3 separate regions of the Homo sapiens genome follow, and all the other regions are linked to region 3. The links come from fine-mapping of genetic effects on gene expression. A gene starts in region 3. Each other region holds a variant in brackets. All regions are shown on one strand. Distances are from middle to middle. Region 1 overlaps LOC107984005 (a long non-coding RNA gene). Region 2 overlaps NCALD (neurocalcin delta). Region 3 holds the start of ZNF706 (zinc finger protein 706).

The links.
Region 1: its variant is fine-mapped to the expression of ZNF706 in tibial artery (GTEx, PIP 0.98).
Region 2: its variant is fine-mapped to the expression of ZNF706 in nasal epithelium (TOPMed, PIP above 0.99).

The regions. Positions count from the first base shown.
Region 1 is chr8:101,284,142-101,292,326 of GRCh38, forward strand. All of the region lies in intron 4 of LOC107984005 (a long non-coding RNA gene), which reads left to right. Among named protein-coding and RNA genes, the nearest start is that of LINC02844, 25 kb to the left of the region's middle. RefSeq lists an enhancer at 3,249-4,448. The variant G/A (reference allele first, on the strand shown) is at 3,931.
Region 2 is chr8:101,751,903-101,760,087 of GRCh38, forward strand. All of the region lies in intron 1 of NCALD (neurocalcin delta), which reads right to left. Among named protein-coding and RNA genes, the nearest start is that of NCALD, 35 kb to the right of the region's middle. The variant C/T (reference allele first, on the strand shown) is at 4,659.
Region 3 is chr8:101,200,566-101,208,750 of GRCh38, forward strand. It overlaps ZNF706 (zinc finger protein 706), which reads right to left and starts at 5,108. Exons shown (of 4, transcript NM_016096.5): 1 at 4,870-5,108; 2 at 1,042-1,178. The coding sequence starts at 1,176. RefSeq lists silencers at 4,643-5,242, 5,453-5,672.

The sequences.
Region 1 (8,185 bases), 84 kb after region 3:
AATGCATGAACGGGACACTCAGGGCATCTCACAGTTTGATCAGGCTTGTAGCCTTCATGGTACATATATTAGTCCATTCTCATGCTGCTATAAGTACATACCCAAGACTAGGTCATTTATAAAGGAAAGAGGTTTAATGGACTCACAGTTCCTCGTGGCTGGGGAAGCCTCACAATCATGACAGAAGGCAAAGGAGGAGCAGAGGCACATCTTACGTGGTGGCAAGCAAGAGAGCATGTGGAGGGGAACTGCCCTTGATAAAACCATTAGATCTCATGAGACTTATTCACTGTCATGAGAACAGCATGGGAAACTACCCCTCCCCCAACACACACACCATGATTTAATTACCCACCACTGGGTCCTTCCATGACATGTGGGGAAGATGGGAGCTACAATTCATGATATTTGGGTGAGGACACAGACAAACTGTATCAGTACATCTCACAACACCTAGAATCCAGACACCAAGGATGATGCACAACATTTCCCTGTTTTCCCCACCAATTCACCCTTAAGTCTATGTAGAATCAGCCCTGCTGAACATCCTTGAGTTTCTTTTCTCTCTGTGCTCTCTCCTTCCCTCTCCCTTGACATCCCCTAAGCTTTTCCTGCCATAGGAGCTGGATTGCTCCTCTTAGAGTGACATAAATCAAGGTCATGGACATAATGTTCTAGGCAAAATTCTGGGAGGAAGGTGATTCTTAAGCATTTCTGTAGCCAGACGGTGTTATGCAGCATCTGCATCTCTCAGAACTTGCGGGGGTGCTCTGGTCAACTTCCTCTGCCAGTCTCTGCCTCTGAGCCTGATATTGATAATTTCTGCCCTCACTCCCAGCCCAATCTCTGAAATCTCTGCCTACCCACAGGTAGACCAGAAGTACTAGGAAACTCACAGCCTTAGAAGCAGTCCTCAGGGTTGGCGTACAAATACCCCAGCTCACTCCTGCTTGGATGGGATAATTCTGAGTTGAGTATTTTACACCATTTCTCAGTTTCCTACAGGTTTAAGTAGGTTTACTGGCTGCCTGGCCTTCCCCGTGCCACCTCCCCACTTGTATTCCCTGCAATTTTTGAATAAATTACTCACACTCAAATCTTTACCTTCAAATCTACTTTTGGGAAAACTGAAACTCAAACAGCAACCATAGGAGAAGCTCCAGGCCTTTCAGATTCCTGAGTGGAGTTTCTAGCTCAGCACTGCTCCCAAAGAACTGTCTATGATCATAGAAATATCCTAGATCTGTGCTGTCCATAGCCACTAGCCACAGGGACTGCCAAGCCCTTGAAATGTGGCTAGTGTGACTGACAAGCTGAATTTTAAATTTTAACTAACTTTAGTTCATTTCTATTTAAATAGCCACTTGTGGTTTGTGATTGCTGTATCAGAGAGCACATGTCTGAAGGACAATTACACCTTTCTTCTTGTCCATGCTTTGTAGCAGAATTAAAAAGTGATTTTGGCTGGGCATGGTGGCTCACACCTGTAATCCCAGCACTTTGGGAGGCCGAGGTGGGCAGATCACCTGAGGTCAGGAGTTCGAGATCAGCCTGGCCAACACGGTGAAATGCCATCTTTACTAAAAATACACACACATACACGAGATTTGATTTGTAAATACCATAGGTTGGGGGCTGATAAGGAGAAAAGTTGGGGGAGGGTGGGCAGGGAACGCTGGGTTTTGACAATTCCTATTTCACCTGTTTCTCTTGAAGAAAGTTGTGCTTTTGAAGGATCAGGATTTCACTTAAGGCAGATGCTGCCCACAAAAGAATCCCACTGGTAGCACTAAAAAATGACAGGCTTATCTGCACTAAAGGCAAGGCTTGTGCCACTTAGAAGGCTTGAAGTTCTTGTAATTACTTCAAATAAAACCACTCCAGTGTTCTCTTGGTAAAACCCTTCAAAATCCAAGCTAACTGAGTGCCTCTTCTTTCTCTTTTAGCCATATGTTCTTAGAGACAATGTTTTCCATGACCTTGAGTTTATTAGGTTTTCAAGAGAGGTTGAGAGTAGAGTCCTTCAGAGAATGTTAAACACATTTTCCTAGGAGGAAACGCTCTCTAAGAACCATTTGTAGTGCAGAGAAAGAAATCAAAATCTTTTCTGCATAAAGGGTGAAGCCAGGCTGTCCACGTGTACTTAGGACCCTTGAAATTACGAAGAGTTTCACGTTGAGAACGGTCATGTCTCCCTTGCTGCTGGGACACAAAGGATGCAGTGTGGTGACTGGGCAAGTGCCTGGGCTTTGGGGTCACCCTGACCAGGGACTTGATGCCTGATTCTTCCCCTATGTGACTATGAGACTTTGGGCTGGTTTCTTAATCTTTCCTTATCTGTAAAGTGGGCATAATAATAGTACCTGCCTCATAGCATTGGTGTGAAGATGAAATGAAGCAATGCACGTAAAAGGTCAGCACATTGCCTGGCATTTAGAAAACACTTAATCAGTGCTATTATCTTTACCATTGTCATGAGACAGACTCAAGTTCAAATCCCAACTCAGTCACTTATTGATTGTGTGAACTTGGCCAAGTTGCTTAACCTCTGTGTCTCAATTTCTTCACTTTTAAAATGGAGATTAAAATCTACCTTGAAGGATTTTAAGGAAGAAAGGTTATTTGTAGGCAGTACTTGGCATGCAAAAGGTATAACTTAATAATTATTATTATATCTTTTTCTCCTTGTAGTGACAGGCATGTGGTAGGAATGTAACATACTTTGGCTGGATTATTTTTCTCTATGCTGAAAGATATTAATATCAGGCCTCTTTGCAGTTACTTCAGTGGACTACTAAAATTACTTCTTAGTGGACTCTGAAATTTGTATAGTGTTTTATACTTTATCAAGATATGCCAGGGATATCCTCTCTTTTGACTTCTTGCATTTACTCACTGTAGTCAGGGATAAGCTCTATGTTTTATATGTTAATTTCAGTCATGCTTTTGTGCATATTAAAGTCCATTTCAGGGATGAGGAGGCTAGGAACAGGAAGAAGCTCACAGTAACTGAGAACTTTGTACCCTGCACTGTGCCCAGATTTACCCATACTATCTCATTTTGTCTCCATAGCAATCCTTTGCTATTCCTCGAATAGGCTATTATTATATCCATTTCACAGGTAGGAAAACTGAAGCAAAGAGAGGTTCAACACATCATCCAAGATGACACAAGGTGGAGCCAACTTTCAAAGCCAGGCTGTCTCCCTCTGGAGCCCTAGTTCTTCCTCACTCTGCTATCTTGCCACACCATGGCTTTTTTGGCTTTTTTTCTTCTCCCTCAAGGACCTCTGCTTTGGTGAATTCTTGCCAAAATGAACCTCAGAGACATACATCTAAGGACCTTGCGTGCACCAAAGAGGGTGGGTGGAGGGGGCAGAGCTTCCTGGGGGTCCACTCTAGGGCCTGCAGGAGGCCTGACCTTGGGCAGACAGCCCTAGCCTCAGCTCTTCTTATAGCTCCCCTGCTCTTTCCTCTTCTTGAACTGCTGGGTGCCAGCATCAGTTCAGCTCTTTCCCCCCACCCTCTGCTCAAGGCCTAGGAGGACAGCAGCTGTCCCTACTTGCTGCACTGTGGGGAGGCGCCTGTGCTCACTGCTCTGCTGTTGAAGAGCTCAGTGAAGCATATGATGTGACTGTGGATATCCAACTGCTTTAGCTGACATCTTGGTAAGTGGCTTCCCACTCCAGTTCCGTGGAGGCCTTTCCCCGTTCTGATGTAGACCCGTGGGGTGAAGACTGGTGGGTCAGTGGGCATGCGGGGTGTGCTGGCATGTATGCCGCAGGGGGTCCAAGCAAGTTTGCTAGGTAGGTCTCATTTCTCCCTCTCGTTCTCTGTTTCTCTGTCCAGCAAACTGGATGGATGTTATTTCACAGACACAAAAGTGTTACAAAATCCAGCCCCCCTCCTTTGTTTTTTAAGCAAGATGGC[G/A]TCTCCTTTTCAGGCTTGCTGTGGTGGGCTGAGCCGTAACCTTACATGGGCGGATCCAGGCTTCATTTCACATAATTCACATTCTTGGCTTCCTGAGTCACTGTCATCATCTAACCTTTCCTGACAGCCAGGAGTGTGTGGGCGTGGATGGACAGGGAATCAGATAAGCCCCATCCATCTGTGCACACATCTGCTCGGGACCCCTTTACCTGATTCTAGAGAAAGCCTTTCACATTTAAAATAACGTGACTAAAAAATTCTTGTGTGAATTTCTTAATCCCTTGCTGGAGTCAGTGGACATTTTTGGACCAGGAGACATATGGCTGCCAAGAAAGGCTGAATCAGAAGGCAGGCAGCATCTCTTTAAATCCAAAACCTCTTTAACTGTTGAGTAGAAAATCAGAGTTCAGCATAGTGGCAGATTGTCAAGTTGTTCTCACAGTGAGAATCGTTATCCAAACCTAGTCTTATTCTGCATGCTTTCCTATTTATTCTCTTTAATCTCATGTCTTCTGAGACAGATTCCTCTTCTGCAGTAGACCCAGCCTTATCAAAACAGGAAGCAACTGTGGAAGCTTTCTCTGGGAAAGTAATCCCTGAGTGGCAGATGACTTCCAGGCTTACATTTTACCCCTTTCTCATCTGCCACATGCCCACTCCCTACATCTCCATCCCCTGGTTTGTGTAGAAAGCCATAATAAAGGACAATCCCTGGGAGCTCTTCCAGGGGTCTGCAGTGAGGATGAAGCTGAGGGCGTGTGTTACAGTCCACAGTGGTCACTTGGTGAGGCTCATCTGTGCTTGTCAGGAACTGGCTGGCTTCTATCCCAGGGACCTTGTAAGCTGTCTAACTCGGGCACACTCTCAAAGGCCCAGGGCACAATGCAGGCAACAGGTAAGGCACGTGGAGAAGTGGGGAGCACAGGTAAGGTTTAGAGGGGCAGCTACTTTCGCCTGTCAGGTGGGAAAGAGGCCTAGTGCTGCTGCATCTTCTGATTTTTTTTAAACAAGAGAAGCCAGATGGTCAGGCATCATGGCTGTCTGTAATCCCAGCACTTTGGGGGCCGAGGTGGGCAGATCACCTGAGGTCAGGAGTTTGAGACCAGCCTGGCCAACATGGTGAAATCCTGTCTCTACTAAAAATACAAAAAATTAGCTGGGTGTGGTGGTGCATGCCTGTAATCCCAGCTACTCGGGAGGCTGAGGCAGGAGAATTGCTTGAACCCGGGAGGCGGAGGTTGCAGTGAGCAGAGATTGTGCCACTGCACTCCAGCCTGAGCAAAAGAATGGGAGTCCCTCTCAAAAAAACAAAAAAGCCAGAAATACATATTTTTAAAAAAATATAAAATATTCCAATTTTTTAAAGGCTGACAGCCAACCAATAACAAACAGACAATACTGCAAAAACCCAAATGGAATATATCTGGGGGCTGCATTTGGCCCACAAGTCACCCATTTGCAACCTCTGGAAAAGCCTTCCTGAATTGACGCCTAAAGCCATGTTTGTGGTCTCCCCTTAGCAAACTTAGAGGATGCATGGGGTGTATTTTTGATACTTGATCATATTTCAGGGTTCATTTTATGTAGCCTTGTGTTTCCTTTGCTTCTTCATCATCATTTAATTCTATTAAATGTTATCTCATCCAACTGCATGTATCACCAAAGATGCCTTTTTGGAATAAGAAAGATAAATGAATTTCTTAACTGCAACATACTTGACCTCCCTGTTCTCCCAGGTCCCCACACTGGGCTAGTCTTTAGCTGAGTGCTGATGAGTCTAAGACGATCATGGTAATTCCTTCCCAGGGATTGGTTTTGGCATGCTCATGTGACACAACTCTAACCAATGACATGTAAGAGAAAGTATGGGGGAGGAGTGTACGTTGGAAAAGTTTTTTTAATGAAAAAGCTCTTGGACTCTTTAAACCATTGTGAGTCCCAGAGCTGACAGCCCTGGGACTTCCTCCTTCTCCTGGTTAAGTGAGATAACTAGTTTTTCTTATTATTCAAGCGACTTTTATTCAGGTTTTTCTGTTTGTAGCCAAAGCATCTGAGTTGATATAAAAAGGAAATTTCTAGGTCGTTAGCCATGCTCAGCTCACAAGATCAGATAATTTACCTATTCAGAGGGGATAGGCTGACTGCTCCTCAAGGGCCACCCTATTGAGAAGACCAAACTGTAGATTTCCATCTCTGCTGCTATTGCGGGTGGGTTGCGGGAGGCTGCAGGCACATTCCCTCCATAGCATTTACTGATTGCCTGCGTGAAGAATCCTTAATTCCAGTAAGCATGGTGAATGTGAGCAGAAGGAACTAGGTGTATTTTTAAGGACAGCCTCATGGAGTTCTAGAGATGAAAGCTGAAGGAATTTTCCTGAAAAGGACTGGGTAAGTGCATTTTCTTCTCACAACTAGTTAGAGTTCCTAAACTGTTAGGATGATGCCAGGTTTTGTTGATTTTTTTTTCTTTTCTTTTTTCTTTTTTGAGATGGAGTTTCACTTTTGTCGTCCAGGCTGGAGTACAGTGGCATGATCTTGGCTCACTGCAACCTCTGTCTCCTGAGTTCAAGCCATTCTCCTGCCTCAGCCTCCCAAGTAGTGGGGATTACAGGTGTGTGCCACCACACCCAACAAATGTTTCTATTTTTAGTAGAGACGGGATTTCACCACGTTGGCCAGGCTGATCTTGAACTCCTGACCTTGAGGGATCCGCCTGCCTCTGCCTCCCAAAGTGCTGGGATTATAGGCGTGAGCCACTGCACCCAGCCGATTTTTTTTCTTATATCAAATATTTGAACCATGTTTAGCTCTCACTTTTCTGCAATAAGCTACGAAATGTGATTTGTGACACCTAGAGATGCACCAAGGGCTCAATAACCCACGAGCCCCCCTAAATGCATGGATAGGACCAGCCTGAGGCAAAGCTGTGATATGGGCCCTCCCATCCCACAGTGTCAGTGGACCCAGATGGGTCACCCTCTGGTCTGGGAGTCCTCTCCCTACCTCTGGAAGAAATGTTGGGTTTCTTCCAACATTTGCCATTTCCTGAGCCCATCAAAGCTACAGAAAGTCCTGCTAGTAATAAAGAGGATGGTGATAGTAGTATGAGCCACAGCAGTAGTAGTAAAGCCTAACCACACCGAGACCTTGTATGTGTTAGACACTTTAAGTACTCTATCTATAGTAACTCATTTAACTCACAAAAACCTGGAAGGTAAGTTATCCTCATTTGACAGATGAGAGAGCTGGAGCCAAAGTCACATAGCTAGTTGGTGGCAAAGTTGGGATTCAAAGCCAGGCAGTCTCATTCTGGGCCTTGTGCCAGATGAATGTGCCACTGTCCTCTCAAGTGTTAAGTGATTACTCCTGGGGATGGGGAGAGGGGTAGGGGGACTTTTTAAACATTTTTAAACATGCACTAATTTTAGCTGACTTAAAAATGTTAGACATGACAGCCAGCACACACTCTTGGAAGTTCGTGTCTAGAGACTGCACCTTAACATCTGCTATGATAGCACTCATAGCCCATCTTCCCACATGGCTTCTGAAAAACCACTACCATTGTTTCCATTGATGAGACCCAGGAAGAGAGGAAATCGAGGATGGATTTTATGGTTACAGTTTGGGGGCCTTTATGTGGTTCCTGGACAACCTTGGCTAGAACACCCCCGGCTTTAGGGGGATGGTAGTGGAGAATTAGTCAAGTAAAGACATATGAAATCTGGAATTATGCAATTTCTAATTCTTGGGCAGGGTGTTTATCTTGGCTCTTAGACTGCAGAGTTCATAACTCAAGAGTACAGCTACTGATATATTTTTACAAAGTGATTATCTGATTTTCTTGGTTTCGATGTCTTTCATCAGTTAGGTGTCAATGGCTACCTATGCTCTGGTTACTATGGTTGCATAACAATTACCTCCCCCCGCATCCCCATTCCCAAACATAGTGGCATAAAACAGCCATGTATTAGGCTCACACATTCTGTGGGTCAGGAATTTGATCAGGGCAGAGGAATTCTATGGAGCAGAGACAAGAGGATGGCTGGCTTGACTCTACTCCACAGTGTCTGGGGCCTCAGCTGAAAGCCCTGAAGACTGCAGGCTAGAATCTTCTGAAGGTTTGTCCATTCACATGTCTGGTGGTGGATGCTGGCTGTTGGCTGAGGTCATCAGTCCCTCCCCATGTGGCCTCTCCACTTGGACTTGTTTGGACTTTGTCGCTGCATGTTGGCTGGAAAGCGAGCACTGGGAGGGC
Region 2 (8,185 bases), 550 kb after region 3:
CCACGAATATTATTTATTTCCAAGTTAGAAGTATAAATTTATCAGGCATTTCCAGAAAAAGATTATTTCCCCCAAACAATGGCATGTTTTGGCTACTGTAAATATAAAACTTAATTCCATTACTTCTGCTCATTAAATATATATTTTAAAGTTTCCGATTTTATTATGCCATTAGAAACAGGTTTTCTCTTAAATATTTTGTATAATATGGTCATTTTCTTGGTCTTCTAAATGATCCTTGCTAAGAATACAATAAACAGTAAAATATATATAATTCATCCATAAAAAATGCAACTTCCAGCTATAATTCAGTGAAGTTGAATAGAAAGCATAACTTACATCTGCTTCTTTATTTCTAATAACTGTAAAAATAACTAAAATATTCTAGAGGTTATAGTCATGGAGACAGCACCACTACCTTAAAAAAGTAAAATATAATTTGTTGAGGAACATCTAAGTGGAAGAATTAAAAACTAACAGAGAAAAACAAACCTAACCAAAATAATTAAATTCTAGTTTCTCTCTTTTTTCAACTTGGATTAGTCCATAACAACTTAGTGGCCTGAAGTAACCACAACAAAGAGTGATTTCCAAACCTGGCAAATTTTAAAAGCTTAGATGAGTTGGAACACACAAAAGATAACCTATGTATCAGAAATCCAGGAGTGGTGGTCAAATAACATGAAATTATCTTGTGCTCTTTCATCCCCAAATTGAGTTTTCTTAAGCTTTATTTTCACCAAGTAAAGTGTTTGGACTAGGTTCCAATGCTAACGGACCATAAGGTAGAAAAAGAAAGCTGGTGTGATAAATAACGGATAAATAAGGTACAGCCCTGCTCTGCAAGAGCTAGCAATCTAGTGCTCAGCAATATAATGTGAGCTACAAATGTCAAATGATGTATGCAATTTGAAATATTTTAGTCACCACATTGAAAATTAAGAAGAAAACTTTATTTAACCAAAATGGAATTTCAACATGTAACAATTTTAAAAGTCACCAATGAAATATTTTACGATCCTCTTTTTTTGTTCTAAATCTCTGAAATTCAACATGTATTTTATTCTTACAAGCCATCCCAATTTGAATTTCAATGCTCAATTTCACGTGCTCAGTAGCCACATGTGGCCAATGGTACCATGTTGAACAGGAAAGATAGCGGGAGGCACAGAGAATATACAAATAATTCAAATGCATGACTGTCTCTTATTAGGGCTATAAAAGAGACATAAATAAAACATCCAGGGCACCTTCAAAGAGGTGGTTGCATCCGAATTGAGTCTTGAGAATCTTAAAGTTAAGAAATGGTATAATCGGGCTTGAATTGTATAAAGGGCTGACTGGTGGATGAAGGGAAGATCAGATGGGTGGGATAAGAAGAGAGAGAAGGAATCAAGAGCGTAGATGGGAGATATTGAGAACCTGGACAAAGGCCAATGTGAATTTAAGAGGTATTTTTAAGGTAGAATTAGGAACTGGACCTGTAGAGACAATATATGACACTGCTGGTGGTTACCCACAACCATTTCTCTTCACTTTCCTGTTAACAAAAACTTGATTTCGTTCAGGAATTTTACACCCTCTACAATGTCATGTTTTTAGGGAAGATGAAAAGATCCCCAGTCCCCAGAGAATAGATATTGATTAGCGTAAGGCAGTTACAATAACTTTATCTTACCATGGACTGGCTTGGGAAGGGACTTGGGATCCAATTTTGGCCAATAGGACAAGTCAGTCTGCAAGGGTAGGGGTGGGGTTCCAAGAAGGGCTTCTTAGATCTTAAGACACAAGGAAGGGATAGTCTCTTTCTGCGTCTAGTGCGTGGTGTGGTGAGGATGAAATGCCTGGAACTGATGCAGCCAATGTATCACTCTGAGGTGGGTGAGTCAACCAAGAACTGAGATTAGCAGAGTGGAATTATGGACTCCTGATGGCATTATTAAACCACAGAATTAGCCAATCCTGGAAGCACTCTACCTCTGGACTTCTTGTTCTGTGAGATAACATATGATTTAAGATATTTTGGGTTATCTCTTATTTACAGTTGACAGCATCCTAATAAATAGGAAAAGAGAAGGATCCAGACAATGCCCCAACCACTGGTAAGAACCGTGAGGTCTTTCCTTTGCACAGCATGTCAGAGCCTGTGAAGTGCTTTCACCTTATGTCCTCATTGGACCCTCCTAACAGCCCTGGGGGGTGTGTCGACAGGTACCACTCTCTGCTTTCACCTGCAAGGTAGAGCCCTCTCCCTAGCTTTCCTTTGCATTTCCAGCAACCAGTACAGTATCTGGAATAATAATTTTAGCTATCATTTAGCTATCATTTCTTGGGCTTTTTCTGTATGTTGGAAACTGTTGGATGTTTCCTATACAAAATCTGACTTTATTCTCTCATTTACAATATCTTACAACAGCTCTACAAGTTGGGTATTGTCTTAGTCTATTGGTGCTGCTATAACAAGATGTCATAAACTGGGGAACTTACAAACAGCAGAAATTTATTCCTCACAGTTCTGGAGACTGGGAAGTCCAAGATGAAGGTGGCAGCAGATTTGATATCTGATATGAGGGCTGGTTTCCTGCTTCATAGAGGGCAACTTCTTGCTGTGTCCTCATGTGGTGGAAGGGGCAGTGGTCTCTCTGGGGCCTCTTTTATAAGGGCACTAATCCCATTCATGACATAATCACTTCTCAAAGGTCTCACCTCCCAATACCATCACCTTAGGGGTTAGGATTTCAACATATGAGTTTGGGGGATGCAAACATTCAGACCATAGCAGGTGTTATCACCATCTAACAGATGAGGGAATTGAAGCTCAGGAGGGTTAAGTTCAAGGTCTCCAGGTAGTGACAGAGGTACAACCTGAACCCAGGTGTCTCTCTGTAAAGGCTGTGTTCTTTACCACCAAGATACACTCGGCACAGGGCCAGTCCATATGTTTATTGAATGAATGAATGAATGAATAAATGAATGAATGGATGGATGAATCAATCAGTCAAAAAATAAATGGATGTTCCAAGAGATTAAGTACCTTACACAAGGTCACTCTGCTAAAGAGCGATCCAGACAGGTCTTCTAACTCCAAGGCCAGTGCCCTTCCTAGCACATCCTATGACTATACTATCACTTATTTGGTACTTGGTTAGACACCACCTTGGATGGTGACTGATAATTTCTTTGTGTGTGAGTCTCATCTCTGCAACTAGACTGTCAATTCTTTGAGGTGGCACCATCTTATTTTGTTTGTAGCTAACATAGCAATCAGAATAATGCACTGTTCACAGTTAAAGTCTTGATTTTTAAAGAAACTACCTTCAAAATACAAATGACTCTAACTCCTGGTTTGCCCTCAACAGTCCCAGTTGATACCGCTGCCCCAACTTCAGTATTAGTAATGTTCCTTTTTACTCTCAGAAGTATTCCCGTTTGGACAATCAATTATATAGTCACCTTAATCATGGTAAACAAGAGTTCAATTTGGCCTGTTTCAGATATGCTCTGTCAACCACGCCCAGCACAGCTGTCTTTGCCTAAAGATGGATCCAACAGCCATCAGGGTTCATGATCAATGCTGGGACACAGATCATTTTCATGCTCATGACTCTTCCTTACCTCTTTCCTCCACCATTCACCCTATCTTCTCCTGTCTCTCAAAATATCTTCTTTTTTCTATTACTGCTTTACCCTCCAGCAGCTTTTCCAGCCCGCATCTCACATCCTAAGGCTTGCAGGCAGAAACCAGGGAATAGGTTTTAAAAAGCCAGGGAAATACATTGTAACATTGCTCCTACAGCCTCACTGCTGTTCTTGGCTGAAATCCTTTCCAACATAAGATAACACTCCTTTGTAAACAGCAAAATAGGAGAAAACAAACCTTTTGTGACTAACCATTTACTTTTGGCTTCCATGTCCTGTGTGAATATGTATGCATTGTGAATGTGGGGACACACAGTAAATCAGATGACTCTTTTACCAGTGAAAACATATAGTGGTGACAAGAGATTCTCAACAGGTTAAATGCTACTATGAGCTCACTTTGAACCACTTCAAGTTCTGGAATCATGACTGATGTGGGGAGAATAAGAAGCAGAACAATTCCTAAACACACACTGTGTGCTGAGCTGTCATCAGACGGGACCTGCCAGAGATTAAGTTTTTGTCCATCTCCCTTCCCCCACCTTTTTTTTTTTTAAATCAAGACAAATGTCAGAAAATCAGATCAGAAGTGGCCTCATTGATGAGTATAAATGTACCGCTAGTGGCTCCATTGTCTATGGAGATAAGTGTTTCAAGGTCCTTTATTTTGAGGATTTAACAGAAAAGCTGGTTCACTGTTTTGGTGAAGGACCTTGGGAGAAAGCTTCCATGAGGTGACAGATCATTAAGAGGACTTCACTCAGCACAACTGGGGCTGTCCTGAGACCCAAGATGTCACTGTATAGGTAAACTCTCCTGGCTGGCACATTCTCTTGGCCTGAATGGTCAGCACGACCAGCTAGGATTCCCTGCAACAATGGATAGGCAATGAGTATCAGACTGTACCTGGCCCGTGTTCAACAGCGCCACTGTGTGGCAGTGAAAAGCAAGTGCAGGGTAGACCAATGAGACCTCAGCAGTCTATGCTATGCATTTGGAAGTCAAGGGCCATCTTTGCA[C/T]GGAATAAGCCCTGGAGATTTCAGGACAATTAAGAGGAGGAAAAAGAACAAGACAGAGATACTGGTTTGCCTGCTAATGAGGTATATTGGATTTCCGAAGAATTAACTAAAATAAGAGGGATGCAACTTTACCTGCACTGCCGTTTGTGAGTGGTTCTCACCAGTTACAAATGCACCTGACAAGAGAATCTGACTGGATGAGATTTTTCTGGTAAGAATATGGCTTGATATACATTGTATGTCTTGTTTTGCAATTATTAAATTTATCCTATTAGAATCTCTACTATGCAGTACATAAGGAATTGACTGACTTTTTCACCTGGCAATGAATAATGCCACAGTACCATGACCACCTTTCCAACATGGGTGTGGCTGAGAACTTCTGGAAGGATGAACACAATCAAAGACAATACTGGCTCCCTTCTTAGTCTCTTATGTCTCTGTCTTTTCTTTAAGATTTATTATTCTTTAGGAACAACATTTTTCCAATAAGCAAAAACTATTTCATGCCATAATCCTTTTTTCTTCCTCTTGCTTCCTCCTGAGTTCCATGTCAATATTTACACATCGCTGCTCACTCCTACTGTTTACCCACCATGGCCTTCAGATCCTGTCCTCAACCTCTCATCAAATAACCTCACATTTTCCATTATTCACTAGAACCTCTCATAACATTTCCATTTCAACAGAAAACAACTTTCTAAGGTCAAGTACTAGTTTCTCTTTTAAAAAGAAAAGTAACTGAACATTCAAGGTGCTATGGCAAGCCATGAGAATACTAGGTAAAGCTATGTGTTACTTTCCAACTGTTCGCTCCATTGTCCTTATCTCTCCGGAACTTAAAACAGAGCATGTCCTGACCTCTGAGGGCTGCAGAGACAACTACTCATAGAGGGCCAGTCATCTCTAGTTTCTGTGACTTTCCCCAATGAATAAGAAGGAGGTAGAGAAGAGCAAGAAGAAAAATGGCTGTCATTCTTTTTATTCCCAGGTCTAATGAAGTATTTTGAATTCCAATGTTCCAAAAATATTTCATTTTTTTCATGAATTTGTGAAATAATTTTTCACTTGGCCTTCTTCATCACCCCAGTTCTAGATGGTAGGGTTTTTTTTTAATATCAATTTTACCTAAAAATTTATTATAGTGTTTCCCCTTTCTCTATCCCTGTATTAATTAACCTTGCCTCCACTCTACCTTCATTTATACCTAGCAAAGTGCCTGGGACACAGTAGGCCTTCAACAAATATAGTGAAGTAAATGTGAACATAATTTCTTGTTTGCACTACTGTACTCATTTCCTAACCCAACCATCAGAGAGGCTATTTTAACAATTTTTTTAGAGCCTCCCACCTCCCAAGTAGCTAGGACTACAGTTGTGTGCTATCACACCCAGATAACTTTTTATTTTTTGTAGAAATGGGGTCTGGCCATGTTGCCCAGCTGGTCTCAAACTCCTGGCCTCAAACATTCCTCCTGCATCAGCCTCCCAAAGCACTGGAATTACAAGTGTGAACTACCATACTGCCTGATTTTTAAACTCACATCTCTTTATGCCACTTTCCTGCTCACCAATACCAATAAATCCCCACTGTCTTCAATGTCATGTCTGATCCTTCAGTCTAATACTACAAATGGCTTTGTAATCTGGCCCCAGCCTGCCTTGCCTAAAGCACTTGACCCTCTCTCCACCCGCTCCTGCTCCAACTCCACAGAAAGGCAGGCCCTTCTTAGCAGGCCCCAGCTCTCCCCCTCCATAGGCTGTCTCCTGCTGACATCCCAGTCTCCACTGTTCCTACTCATCCTGCCTGGATTCCCACCAAATAAAGCCTGAAACAAGTGCTTACTTTCCAATGACAAATCACCATTGATCCTGGGTGACAAATACTGTCTTGAGCACTTTATATAACACTGCAGTATTTCCTTGAATCCCAATACCAATAAAAGCTATGTATTAATTCATTCAGTAATCTGTTCCTCCCATGAATTATGGCAGATCCAGGATTTAACCCTATATGTCTGTCATCAAAGACCAGGTGCTCTTACTCACCACATCCACCACATGTCTTCTGTCCCCATGTGTCCTGACTCTAGGCATGCACCTCTCATACCTCTCGGACCTGTCTATGGTATTCATTACATTGCAAGAGAGTTCTGTCTACAGATTAGAGTTCCCTCACAGGATTATGAACACCTCAATAGCAGGCCTGGTGTTTATATATCTGTTCATCTCTAGTGTCTAGCATAGTGCTGGGACACAGGATGTGTAAAATACTTTTTTTTTGTAGTTTAATTTGAATCTGTGCATCCAATAATAAGAAAGATCCCAACCTACTTAAATTGGAGAGTTGCATCACATGTAGATCTTAGAGCTCTTTTACTACAAAGTACAAATCCAGTGGCCCAATTGGATAATAAGGATGCTGAATCTCCACTTGCCATCCCCAACTTACTTCATACATCAATATTTTTAACTCATTTATAGGAACCTGGCATTGTGATATTCGTGACAACCATCTATAATTCAACCAGCCAAGCACACCAGCAGAAACCGCCCACATTTTCAATAACAGCATTGCTTAATCCGAAATGCTTTTTGGAAGACAAAGAAGCATTCATAAAATGGAACAGTAGTGAATGTTGATAATGAGAAAGTTTTATAACAAAGTGTCTTGCTGATTTATATAGTACTTCCAAGCCAATGGCTAGAAGAAATTTTGATAAAGATTCACTCTCCTAAGCCTAGGCGACATGCCAGAAAGTTGTCAGTGTCTTCGAAGACAAAGAAACTGAGAGAGGGAGAGGGGGAAAAGGAGGGAAGGAAGAAGAGAGTCAGGGAAGAGGAGGAGGAGGAAAGAGAGAGACAGGGATTGCTTTTAATATCTTGATACACCAATGGGGAAAATTGTATGCAGTAAAATGAGGAAAACATCCCAGATTATTTTCTGGAAGGACTTGTCATCTGAATTCAAAGTGGGTCTTGAAGGTATCCCAGGGACCTGCCTGCTGTCAGGGCTAGGAGAGCAATGTTCTCTTTCCTGCAATTATTTCAATTCTGCCACACAATAAGGAGTCCTGGGGGCCAAGGAACAGGGAACTGCATTACTAGACATACATCCCTCAAAGAAGACCAGACAAAATTACCAAAGTTTCAGGTGACCAGACTGAATTTCCAGGAGCTACAGTCACTTCCTTTGTGCAAAAAATATAAAAATGTACAGCTACTCCCAAAACTTGACGAGAGTAGTAACATCTGTCATTCGGGGCATCAGATAAAAATGTATCATCAGTAAGGGCACATGGCAGGCTTAGGTAGAGGGAGAGACTGGGCTGATCCCTGATTAAACAATACCTAGCACTTACTCTCCCTTAGTAGTTCAATTAAGGGCAGTGGCGCTTGCATTTAGACACTGCGGTTCCCAAGGCCACACCAGACCCCAAGGGGTTGGTCAAGTCAAAGATGGTGGGCAATAAACAAGCTGACCCAAGGTTATGGCTCCAGTCCCATGAGCCTGGTTTTGACATGATT
Region 3 (8,185 bases):
TTTATTCTTAACCCATTAAATTACACAAAATATGAAATAAAAGTCTGTGGTTTTGAGTTTTTAAATATATGTAACTACTCTACCACATTTAGATTAAGGTATTTCTTCATTACTAGTTGATTAAAATTTGCACCCTGCCTCTTTCCAAACAATCACAAGCTGCTCAATTTCATTATTTTGAGTGTATATGTAGTGTACTAACTCCACTATGGTTTCCTTTGGTACTGCCACTCACTAACTTCAAGGGTAATGAGCTTAAACAAACAGGCAAGAGGCTCTGATTTGGAATTTCAGAAGTACTTCTTTGAGAGGCAGTACAGTAGTGGTCCAGAGGGTGGACTCTGGAGCTGAACTGCCTGAGTTCAGATTCCAGCTCTTCTACTAACCAGCTGGGAGACCCCACACAAATTGTTTAATTTCCATTAGTCAGTTTACTCTTCTGTAAAATGAGAACAATAAAAGTACTTTATCTTATAGGGTTGTTATGTGGATTAAATAGGTGAATACATGTAAAACACCTGGCTCTATGTGTGGCATATGGTAAGCACTCAAAAGTAGCTGTTATTATTACAGTTCTTCAAATCTAATACAACACATTAATTCTAGGAAAAGCTCTCAACGTGATTATACTCTATATGGTTTTACAGACATCCTAATTATAAATTTAGTGAAGAAAAAACCAATTATATAACTAGAGGTATACTTACTAGCATATTATATAGCTCTAAGAGTGTAGAGTTATATGATGTGCTAGTGAAGTGTATTATATGCCCTTATGAAGACATCTTTATTTTATATGAGGAAAGCAATTTTGTTTTGTTCACTCTGTTTTCCCAGCACCTAGAGATTTTTGCCTGGCCACAGGAGCCATTCAAAAAATATTTGTTTAAAGGGTGAATGAAAATAGATACCTAAAATAATCAGCTCTCAAACCTACTATTTCATGTAAAGCATCTATTTTGCCATGGTTTCAAAATTTTAATCTATTCAAGCCAAAACTGCCCACGGGAGAGCTGTATCTTTCAATTCAATTCCCCTTACCCTACAGACAGTGCAGGTATATATTAAGGCAGCTTTGGCAGCAGCCTTTTGGTCATGTCCTTGTTTCTTCTTTTGTCCAGCTTGCTTTTTGGCATTTTTCTGCTGAGACTGAATTTTCTGCTGTCCACGAGCCATATCTAAAAACAGAAGGTGAAGCATTAGAGTGGCTTATTTACTCTAATACAGAGTAATCAAAGCATAAGAACGTTCTTAGAATTGAAGCCTTAAGTTTTATAGAAATATCTGGCAAATAAAAATTTATAGGTATTAAAATTCCCACATATAAATGCTACAAAAGTATCAATTGACACAACCCTGTGGAAAACTAGTTGGTAGCTGTTTATTCTATGAGCCAGCAATTCCACTCTTGGTATATACCCAATAGAAATGCAAATGTTATGTACACCAAGACATGTACAAAATGTTCTGAGTGCCCATTCCAAAACTGGAAAAAATCTGAATGCCCATCAATAGTAACACGGATGCACAACTTGTATACATATTTTTATAGTATTTATACAACGGAATACTACCCAGCATTTAAAAAATTGTGGCCAGGCGCGGTGGCTCACGCCTGTAATCCCAGCACTTTGGAAAGCCAAGGCGGGTGGATCATGAGGTCAGGAGTTCAAGACCAGCCTGGCCAAGATGGTGAAACCCTGTCTCTACTAAAAATACAAAAAAAAAAAAAAAAAAAAAAAATTAGGCAGGCATGGTGGTAGGCACCTGTAATTCCAGCTACTTGGGAGGCTGAGGTGGAGAATTGCTTGAATCCGGGAGGCAGAGGTTGCAGTGACGCGTGATGGCACCACTGCACTGCAGCCTGGGCGACAGTGAGACTCTGGTCTCAAAAATAAATAAACAAACACACAAACAAAAAATTGTTACAAGTAACAACTTGGTTGTATCTCAATGTTAAAGGAAAGAAGCCAGTTGTGGGGAATATACATTATTTAAAGTTCAAAACAGGCAAAGCTAATCTATAGTGAAAGGGGTCACCTTGGGGGTTATGGGTAATGACTGGGAAGACAGGACATGAAGGGGACTTATGGGGTCCTGAAAATGTTCTTGAATCAAGTGTGTTTACTTATAAAAATTCATTGAATTGTACACTCAAGATTTATGCACTTTACTGTATGTAATCTTCACAAGTTTACTAAAAAAGTTTAGCCCCCGCTATCATTTACTTGATCACTCTGCAAAAGTAATTTCCCTTCCCAGTATTCATTGTGACTTGCGATTGTGATTTTTATAACTTTAAGAGAAATAAAAGCTGTCTGTTACTCCTTCTAAAGGAGACCTCAGAAATAGGTGGAAACTGTTTTCTTACTTAGTTTTCATAAAACTACTGTTATTAATTTTTTTAAAAAGTTGGTCTTGCTGGATTGCTGAACAAATTATAAAATGAGATTATCAGCAAGCCACTAATTCCAGAAGTTTCTTTGCTCTCTAGACGTTAGTTCCCATTTGAGGGAATGAACTTGGTTAAGAGGGTTCTTTTACAAAGCTGAAAGATACCACTTTTTGTTACCGATGATCTGACGTGAACCCAAATGGATTAAAACAAAAAAAAAAATCAAGTCACTGAAAAAAGTTACTTTTACTTTTCCATTTAAATTAAAGGCTTTTATTCGACCACACAAGTTAAACCTGCTCATAAAGTCTATCATGAGTCTCAATTGCTTTTTAAATATATCAAAATTGGATCCTAAGTAGAATTCATATATATATAGTTTTGACTAGTACTGTAACTGAATGTAAATCATTGCAGGACAGGAACATACAATGGATTTGTATCAACTTCACCAGGGAAGGGTGCTAGCTTCTTCTGACTAGGACCATAATTAGTTAATGGATATGAGGTCAAAGCATTTCATAAAAATTACTGAGCTCCTCCTGTTCCCCAAAAAAGGAAACTAAAAAAATACACTGATTGGAGAAGTTCCCACTAGCATTAAAAAAATGAACTGAAAGTCAGATAAAATATAAAAGAGGGTCAATGCTTTTCAGGATAGTCAGCTGACTATTTCAACTGAGGAAATATGGGGTTTTTATATTAGGGTAGCACACGAGCCTAATACATTTTCGTAATTGAAAATGTTTAGCGTGCTAGCCTAATATGAGAACCCCATTCCCACCAAACAATGGTAAATATTACCAGCTGTTATCAGTCCTTGAAGACTAAGCTTCCATTTTTGCTTTAAAAAAAATTATTAATTCTAAGCCAAATGGCACATTTTTTTTAAAAGTGTATTTAAGTCCGATGTTACCGCAAGCTTACAAACCTATTCCCATGGAAACAGGTTTGGATACTTATGTATTATTTGGACGACAGTAGTCACGTGATCAGCCTTTATGTATACCAATGTTTTGCAAGGTTTTTTGTCTCAATGTCTTACTATCAGGACCTTGTAACAAAATAGCCAGTCTTCTCACACATCTTAACTCTTCGACACAATGTATTTTATGTATCTTAATACACTGATTTTGTGGGAAATCTTGTTTTATGTTAAAAAAAATCTTCAAAAATGGTAAGCCACTAATTTCAGAAGTTCCTTTGCTTTCTAGAAGTTACTAGCTATTTTGATATTTCCATGTTGTGACTCGTACAAAGCAATGTCATTAGACACACAAAATTATTTTTAACTTTTGCACTTAGGACTTTCCCTAAAATATAACATTACACAATAGATTCAACCCATTTTCCATTGTCACCAAACAGCAACCAAAAAGACCGAAGAGACTTAATAAAGACAGTAGTCACTTGTTCTTATTCTGAAGACAGAAAACTTAACACCAGGTAAAGGAAATGGAATAAAATAAGCTAAATGCATGAGGTAGGCCCCTAACTTCTGACAACACGCCCCATCGATTTCCTTTCTGAAAGCAGAAATTCAAACGAACCAACCACCTGCTTTTGGACAGCTCAACTTAGGACTTGCTCTCAAGCCAACACAATTTTCTACAAAATCGTAGGCAGCTACAACCGCTCCTTGATTAAATGCGACAAACTGGAGGGAAAAAGTCACTTACAAATACCTACATGCTGGTTTTTAATGCAACTCTCAGTGTGGTTTTCCGAGGGGGCTGCAAAGAGGGAAGTAGTGGAAGAAACGAGTTCTAAAATGAGGCGCTCTCGTAGGAGGCAACAAGTAAGCTCTGCCCCAAAGCTCCTTTTAAAACCAACATAAATGAGTAACAGAAGAAAAGGATTTTGGGTCCAGGAAGTAGGCTCATTCTCCATAACCATCGGAAAGGAAGAGGCCCAGGCAGCGCTCCACATCCTGACCCTAGCTTTTAACACCATCGTTTTGGGGAGAGGAGAGGAGGAACGCACCCACAGTGAGGTCTCCACCCAACACTTCTCCGACCCCAGCTTCAGCCTGGCGCACCTTCCTTCCCAAACCCGCCTCTCCCGCCTCGGAGACCCCCTCCTCCTCCCTGCCACCAAAGGCCACGCAGCCCCCATCTAGCCAGTCCTCACGGACCCTGGACCAAGACGCGCCTCCTGGAGGCCGAGACTGCCCGAAACCCGGCCCCTGCGTCCACCGGGAGCGCCACACTCTGGCAGCTGACCGGCGGCTGTCGCCGGGGGTAAGGTTACCGCTCCGCTTCCGCGGCTGGCCTGCGACCCGGCCACCTGCAGGGCCTGGCAGGCGCCCGAACTCATCCCCTTCCCGCGGCCCGCCCCGGGCCGGGCCCTGCCGCCCCCCGCGACCCCTCGCGACCCGCGGCGAGTCCCACGGTCCCCACCGCCCCCCGCTGGCCGGCCCCCGCCCCGTTTCCCGGGCGTCCCGCGGCGTCAGCACCGCCCCCGCTGCCGCTCACCCGGGCCGGGACAGTCTTGCGTCGGAGAGACAGTGCAGCGCGAGAGGGCCGGGAGAGGACGCCGGAGGGAAAGGAAGGGGGAGCGCGCCCAGCACCGCTTGGGCCTCCTCCACCCGCTCAGGAGGGGAAACACGAGAGCCGGGAGCACAACAGCCTCGCACGCCCGCCGCCGCCGCGCGCCCGCCGCCGCCTCAGCCTTAGGGGAGACCACTACGCCTCGTGCCCGCGCACGCCGCGCCGCTCTCCTCGGCGCCCCCGCCCCGCCTGCTCCTCGCAGCCCCGCCCATGTGCCTTTCTGCGGCTGCCTCCTTCTGGCCCCCACCCCGCTCGCACGCCTGCGCCCTGGCTGGTCGCGCGGGCCAATGGCAGCGCGCCCCTATTACATAAGCGCGAGGGGGCGGGCCCTGGCTGACACAAACTTCAGGGGACGTCGCCTTCTGTCCCCAGGCGCCCCTCCTCTCCGGCGCGCTCGGTCCGGGCGGCTTCTTCACCCAGCCCTGGGAGCCACGTGATCCCGGTCCTGGTTGGTGACCGGGCCGCGGCGTGTTTCACAAGTCGCTCGCTCGCTCATCCACTCGGGCGGCGGCCGGGCCTCAGGCGCTGCGACCCTTTTCCCGCTCCTCCCAGGCTGACGCGCCCGTCTCGGCGCCGCCCTCCTCGGCACCGACTGAGGCGCTGGCCCGGGAGCGGATCGCGGGGCCGCGGTGGCTGAGTCACATTCCCGGAGCCCCGCCACCCAGGACACCGCGGCCCCGGCCCCCAGCGAGCCCGGCGGACCCAGCGGCTCTGAACGCGGACGCACAGCCTTTGTTCTTTCACAGCCGCCCTTTACCTCACTCCCATGGAAACCCCAGGTGTTTTCCCAAGCTGGGGGCTTTTAGTGAGTTCAAGATTCAAGCCTAAGTCGTATTAAAAATTGCTGGCTAGGCCGGGCGCGGTGGCTCACGCCTGTAATCTCAGCGCTTTGGGAGCCCAAGGCAGGAGGATCACTTGAGCCCAGGAGTTCCAGACCAGCCTGAGTACATAGCGAGACCCACGTCTCCACAAAAATAAAATAAAATAAAATAAATAGTGGAGCATGGTGGCCCGCGCCTGTAGTCCCAGCTACTCGGGAGGCTGAGGTGGGAGAATCGCTTGAGGCCGGGAGGTGAAGGTTGCGGTAAGCCGAGATCGCGCCATTGCACTCCATCCTGGGCGACTGAGTGAGACCCTGCCTAAAAAAAAAAAAAAACAAAAAAAGAAAAAAAAATTGCTGGCCAGGCTTCCCGGAGGGGTTTAGTTTGACTGCTAACAATATACGGTACTGAGTTGCTAATCCTTCGGGGAATGGTTAAAGTTCTTTGCGCGCGCTCTCTCTCCATTTACAGGCAGTGGCAGCAAACTTTCAATATCTGACAAGAGCAATGGCGATTATAACCATGATTAAAATTGCTGAATATCTGGAAACAGTACTTTAGACATCAGCTTTATTGTGCATACTTACCCCCGACCCCCGCCACATTCGTTTCTAATTAGAACTACTAGTGACAAAGGAGAAAAAAAAAAAGTGTTTGCATTGGCTGTTCTCACCTTGCCTGTAGTGCCGTTTCCCAAGTTTGCGTGGCAGTGCCCAGGAAATGTTGGCTGAATATTAGTATATCCCAAATGACTTGGACTGGGCTATAGATACCACAGAATTGTTTAAACTAGCCAGGAAGGAGTTAGCTGCCTATTGCATTTGAGTGGAGAAAAATACGAAATGAAACATGGCATGCAGTGATCCGGGTGTTCAGTTCTCCCTCTTCATCCTCATTTCAGCTTCTCTCACCTTCACTTTTTATGCTCTGACTTCCTTCTTGCAGTTTTAAATTACTCTCTAGTCCTAGATTGTAAGATTATTTTCATCAGGGAATACGCAGTATGTTAAACATAGTAGACGTTGAATAAATGGATATTGATCAAATGAACCGAGTATGTCTGAAGAAAGCAGCTTTTAAATTGACATAGCATGAAGCTCTAGCTTAGTCACTAATAGTCACTGTAACCTTAATGGTTGTGTTAATCTGGCTGATAGAGGGATGGGTACTTGTTGGCCCTAGAAATGGGAACTTCAAAGATCTGTGTTTATCTAGCCGTGAATGACAGTAGACAGTGGAAAGGGACAGTGAAATTTGTGTGGCAGAGATATGTCTTCTTAACTAAAGAGGTGACTCCTATTGTGAAGTAGGTTAATATGTCACTCTTTACCATGGCCTAGATGAAATATGTATTCAAGCTAGTGTTTCTTAAGTTTTTGAGTCATAACTCCTTTGAGAATTTGGTGAAAGCTATTGACTTTGCCCCCAGAAAGTTCATGTACTTATCATGTAACTTATCCTCATAGGTAGTGTTTCTTAATCTCAGCACCGTTGAAATTTGGGCTGGATGATTCTTTATTATGGGGCTCTGTGAGACCTGGGGATTGTAGGATGTTTAGCAACATCCCTGTCTCCTACCTGCTTATCCAAGTAGCACCTCATCTCCAGTTGTGACAACTAAAAATGTCTCCAGACATTGTGAAATGTTCTCAGGGGGTCAAAGTCTCCCCTGATTCAGAACCACTGCCTAGAGGATATGGCATAATGGTAACTTTATGTGATGGTTAGGGAATTTGAAAAAAAAAAAAAAAAAAAGAAACAAGGAATGGATAAGATTCAACATCTGTGAAGTGACACTCAGTAAATGAAAGGCGGATGAATTAGCATTACTACCAGCTGGTGTCCTACTTATGTTATAGAAATGTGACAGCAAATGTGATATGAACTCCTTAGAAGCATTTTTATACACATTGCTGGCTTTAATTGTGAATGCTACAGTAACTCTCCTGACTGTTTTTCTTCTTCTGCCTTTAGACAATTACCCAAGGTTAAGATGCAATAAACATGTGCCTATTTTCTATCCAAAATCTCAATCAGATTAAAATGCTTCTCTAAAGACCTGAAAGGCTTATTTGTTTATTTGTATTCATGTAGGATTTGGGGGGATGAAAGAATTGGTGATTAATCAACATATTATTTTCCCAATAAACAGACTATTCTGACAAATGTTTAGTGGCAAATAATAGCAACAGCAATAATGGCAACAATAAACTTAGAACAGAAATGGATTTATTTTTATTTATTTATTTTTTACCAGCTCTTTCTCTTTCACTCGCTTCTGCATGTTGAGATTTCTCACACATGCAACCTAGATCTTCTTGTCTTCTTTATATTCTTTCTCCAAAGGAATCTCATTCACTGTTGTGCCTTTAAATAGCAAGCTTCAGGTGACCCCCACATTTCTATCTCCAAATTGACAT